Regions from separate parts of the Homo sapiens genome. Here region 1 is linked to region 2. A link means that fine-mapping ties the variant in region 2 to the expression of a gene that starts in the linked region. Tissue or cell type: whole blood. Region 2 holds a variant in brackets; the other region holds the start of a gene. All regions are shown on one strand. Distances are from middle to middle.

Evidence for each region. PIP is the estimated chance that this variant, and not a neighbour inherited with it, causes the effect.
Region 1: it holds the start of NRDC, and the variant in region 2 is fine-mapped to the expression of NRDC in whole blood (INTERVAL, PIP 0.97).

Annotation. Positions count from the first base shown.
Region 1 is chr1:51,877,650-51,880,312 of GRCh38, forward strand. It overlaps NRDC (nardilysin convertase), which reads right to left and starts at 1,078. Exons shown (of 31, transcript NM_001101662.2): 1 at 626-1,078. The coding sequence starts at 966. RefSeq lists enhancers at 1,068-1,362, 1,246-1,425, 1,816-2,369 and a silencer at 1,116-1,165.
Region 2 is chr1:51,799,138-51,801,637 of GRCh38, forward strand. It overlaps NRDC (nardilysin convertase), which reads right to left. Exons shown (of 31, transcript NM_001101662.2): 21 at 1,419-1,546. Among named protein-coding and RNA genes, the nearest start is that of MIR761, 36 kb to the right of the region's middle. The variant C/T (reference allele first, on the strand shown) is at 1,160.

The DNA.
Region 1 (2,663 bases), 79 kb after region 2:
GAATTTCAAGGTTAGAAGAAACCTTACAACTCACCCAACTGAGACCTAAGCCCTCTCTAATATATTCCTGGACGAGGTCGCCCAACCGTTTTGGTAATGGAGAACTACCCATGGAAACAAGTCACTTCAACTTAGGCCAAATATGATGCAAAGTTACTTTACTGAAGCCACACCATCCTCTGGTAACTTTCGTCCACTAGTTTCACCTATCACTTAAGTGTCCCTCAAATATTTTGGATAGTGATAATATGCCCCTTAAATATCCTGTCCTCCAAATTAAAGTATCCAACTCCGTCAACCTTTCCTGGTAACATAATACCAAGACTCCCTCACCATTCAGGCTGCGTTCCTCAAAGAAACCTTCATTCTTGCTTTAGCGACTGTATTCAAATGACTCGAAAAGCTTCTCCCATTCTGACGTCTTACAACCCAAGATCTCCCACTTGCCCAGCTGACACCACAGGGAAGCCTCTAATCACGCTTGCCACCTCCACCCAAGGAAGCATTTGGGGTGGAAAGTGTGCCCTGTTGCTCCATTGGGAGACATGGAGACAAGAAGTGACGGCGGCACCGACAGAGAAGCCGGCACACTGTTCGCCTCCCCATTGCAAGCCTCCTCCCTCACCGGTATTGCTTGGGGTCGCTGGGAGACTTGACGATCTCAGGGTCCCCAGCATTACTGAGAGACCCCCTCCGTCCCTCTTCCTCAGATTCATCCGCTCCTAGACGGGCAACCCGGCTGTTCTCGCCCAGATCCTGTCCATTGGGCTGCAGGTCAGGGCAGCTGCAGGTAGACTTCGCCTTGTTCCTTCCAGGCATGGCCAGAATAGGAAAGGGTCTGGCAGCAGCAGAGTCTTCGCACCGACCCCGCGTTTCGATTCCCCAGAGCGCCGCGAGCTCCCGCCCGGCCTCACACAACTTCCTCCGGGTGGCACAGACTGCAGCAACAGTGACTCTCCTCAGCATTCACCACCAAGCTGGAGCGATGGACATCCCGCTTCCCAGGACCCACCTCCTCCGCGTTCTAGAGGCGGTGGCGGCCGGCCCTGGTGCTGCCGCAGCCGCGGGGAACAGGCCTGAACCCCTCCCCCAACCCAGTCTCCCTCTCGCCGACTTCCCTCGTCCCTCCGCCCTCCCGGCCGCCGATGACGCTACTGATTTCAGCCAATCATGAGGCAAGAAAGTAGTCACGCTCACGTAAGCAACCAATCAGAACAGGAAAGGAGAGGCACCAACGTGACCCGGACTGATTCTCGGAACAGCCAGCGAACATTTCGAAACCCAAAGTGGGCGGGGCGAGGGAGAAGAAGCGGAGAGAGTGGCGCGGAGGACGACGGGAGAAGGGCCCCCGGCGCGTTTATGACGTACGAGTGTGTTTTGTGGAAACCACTGAGTAGTGCTCCGCGTGTCAAAGAAAAATATTCCCCTAATGAGAAAACTGAGAAACGAGTGCAGAGAATTAATTCCAAAGTTTTAAATTTTCCCATTCGTGTCATAGTTTGGGTACCCTACTCCTCAGACCCGGGGCGAGCCTTCGGCTGTGACTCAGCACATAAAAAACCAGAACGCCGGAAGTATTTTCCTACACCCGCCGGATGGACGCTGCTCCCGAGCGCCGCAAATACTAATTGGCTCTTCTCTACCCTACAGTCGGCCCGACAGTGGTGGGGTTTCATCCTCAAGCCCTAAGAAAGTGCTAAAAAGACCAGTCTGGATGTGCTAACTCTTCTGTGTGAAAACGTTTTTTAGCTCCTCCAGCCTCCTGTTAAATTCGGCCAATTTTTATCGAGCAGCTGCAGCGTCTGCTGCCTTCAAGTCTCCTTTCCCAGTTTTTCCCGCTAGCAGTGGTCTTTGGTTAGCAATGTAAAATGTGACGGAAATACAAACATAAATGAAAGCTAAAAAGCAGCTGAAATTAGTAAGATGCACTATACTGACACCATGGGGTAAGAGATCATAGCTCATACATACGAATGAGCGGGGAAAGACGTGAAGCAGGGAGATGTGTTGATAGTTACTGTATCTTCAAGGTTTTCGAGGCCTCTTCTGAGTTCCAAATGCAAGGAATACAACCATGAACAAAACAAAACTTGCCTTAGGCTGGGCGTGATAGTGATAGCTCACACCTATAATCCTAGTACTTTGGGAGGCCGAAGCGGGAGGATTGCTTTGAGCCTGGGAATTTGGTACCAGCCTGGACAACATGGTGAGACCCCCGTCTGTACAAAATTCTTTTTTAAAATTAGCCAGGCTTGGTGATGCGTGCATGTGGTCCCAGCTACTCAGGAGGCTGAGGCAGGAGGAACGCTTGAGTCCAGGAGGTCGAGGCTGCAGTGAGCCGTGATTGCAACACTGCACTCCAGCCTGGTTGACACAGTGAGACCCTGTCTAAACAACGACAACAAAAATTTAAAGCCTTGCCTTGGGGGAGCTTGCATCCTAATGGGAAGGAACTGTAAAATATGTAAACTAAAGTAAATCAGGCTTTTAAATAATTCAAGTTAGCTTTCTTCAGAAGTCTTATTGAGGACTGCCACCTGGGAGAGTCAGAGAGTTTTTTTTTTAGACTGCTCCAAAGCAGTGTTTCAGCCCGCAGCTTCTATACAGGTGGTGGCCGCTCTGCATGTGCTTGGAAGTTAAATCAAATGTGCTCAGAAAGGCTG
Region 2 (2,500 bases):
GTAGTATTCATGAGTTATTGGCAGGGCTATTCACCGTATCAATGGTTGCAGATAACTCTCCTTTTTTTATTATTATACTTTAAATTCTAGGGTACATGTGCACAATGTGCAGGTTTGTTACATAGGTATACATGTACCATGTTAGTTTTGCTGCACCCATCAATTCGTCATTTACATTAGGTATTTCTCCTAACACTATCCCTCCCCCAGCACCCCCACCCCCCAACAGGCCCTGGTGTGTGATGTTCCCTCCCTGTGTCCATGTCCTTTCTAACATATATCTAGTTATTAGTTTTTGTAACTTTCTGTGATCAGAATATCAGTTATTACATGACTGATTCCTAACCCCTTCTTTCTAATTCTGGAAACTGATGGGTTCATTACAGCTGTGTCAAAAGCAGAACCTTTACGCTGTTCACTATTTATAGATGCCCAGGGCAAAACTGTCAAGTAGGGGCTAGCCAGTCATGTGCACAAAGGGGTAGGTCTGTTCAGAGGACTTTTCTCTCCCTCCCACAAAGGCTCTACCTGCTAATAGAGGGTACCTCAGAAGGATACTTTTTTCTGATTCACGCAAAAGTATCCTACAGGCTACAATTAGCCCTGGACTAAAGTAGTAAGAACAGGCTCTGAATGAAGGCCCAAGGGGGTTGCCTGTGAGCAGAGGGTTTAAGTATTAGCATACAGACTGTGTAGCTGCCTTTCTGCTCTCTTCTGGAAGCTTGGCTGAATTCTGGATAGTTAAGATTGCTAGATAAGTGACATGTTTAGCAATTTAACTCAGCTACTAATCACCAACATACTAAAATCACCAGTAAATACTTCTTCTGGTTTGTTTTTTGTTTGTTTTTCTATGAGACAGGGTCTATCTCTGTCATGCAGGTTGGTGTGCGGTGGCATGATCATGGTTCACTGCAGCCTCAACCTCCTGGGCTCAAGCAATCCTCCCACCTCAGTCTGCCAAGTAGCTGGGACTACAGGCATGTGCCACCACACCCAGCTAATTTTTTAATTTTTTGTAGAGATGAAGTCTTGCTATATTGCCCAGGCTAGTCTTGAACTTCTAGGCTTGTGATCCTCCCACCTCAGCTTCTCAAAGTGCTGGGATTACAGATATAAGCTACCATGCCCGGCCTAAAACTAGCACTTCTTTAACATT[C/T]AGGTATAATGATTGGTGAAAACACCCTTCCTTACTTTTAGTCTCTACAGTAAGCTGCTTTCAGTCCCATTCACAGCTAGCTACATAAGCTGGGTTTAGAAATACCGTAACGCTATGCACGGGTCTCCTAAACTAGAGCACGATTCAAACACGGATGAAAATTAGCACTGCAACTATAGCCTTAACCCCCACACCCACCCACTAGGGAGAGTAATACTTTCAGGTCCTCAAAATATAAGCTCATCTCATTTATACCCACTTGGCCAAAGTCTCGGGCTTGATGAGGATGTTAAAGTAGGTCTTCTTCAACTGCTCAGTTATCATTGTAAAGACAGCTGGTGTGGAATTGAACTCAGCTAAGTAGTCAATAATGAGCTGAAACAGTAGCTAAAAGAAAAAGAAGGAAGCATTTTAAGAAGCATGGAAATCCACTAGGTATTAGGGAGGGAAATGTTTCTCTTTGGTTTTTACCAGGTACCCAGCATGGAACTAGGCATTGTGGGGGGACATAAGAAAATTACTAACAACTCAATTTGTTCGTTTGTTTGTTTGGGTGTTACCTGGAGACAGGATATCACTGGTCACCCAGGCTGGAGTGCAGTGGTACTATCGACTGTAATTCATTATAACCTCGAATGCCTAGGCTCTAGCCATACTCCCACCTCAGCCTCCTGAGTAGCTGGGACTACAGACAGGGGCCACCATGCCCGGCTAATTTTTTTGCTTTTGTACAGACAAGGTCTTCTTATGTTGCCAGGCTGGTCTCAAACTCGTGGCCTCAAGTGATCCTCCTGCCTCAGCCTCCTAGCCTCAAAGAATCTTAAGGGTCCAAAATTCTAAATAATTGTCAAATTTGGAACAATTCTTCCTTTTTTATCATTTCATGGGTGTTCTCAATAAGATTTGTAGTTTGTCTTCAGATAGATCCTATACTTTTCCTGTTTATTCTTAGCCATTTTATTGGCTTTTTTTTCTCAATATTGTAAATAAATGTAAGATTGTTTCCATCCATTTGTTTCTTTCTTTTTTTAAGAGACAGAGCCTCGCTATATCGCACAGGCTAGTGACACGATCATAGCTAAGTATCCTCAAACTCAAGTATTTCTCCTGCCTCATACTCCGGAGGAGTTGGGACCACCGGCACATCCCACTGTGCCTGGCTTCCATTTCTAAGTGATTACTGGTACTATGGGGGAGAAAAAGCCATTGATTCTGATATACTAGTCTTTTGACCAGCCATATCACACCTAATTTTTTTTTTAATTTTAGTGGTATATGAGGTTTTCTAAGAATACAATCATATCATCTGCAAGGAAAAATATTTTTTCCAAAAAAGTTTTT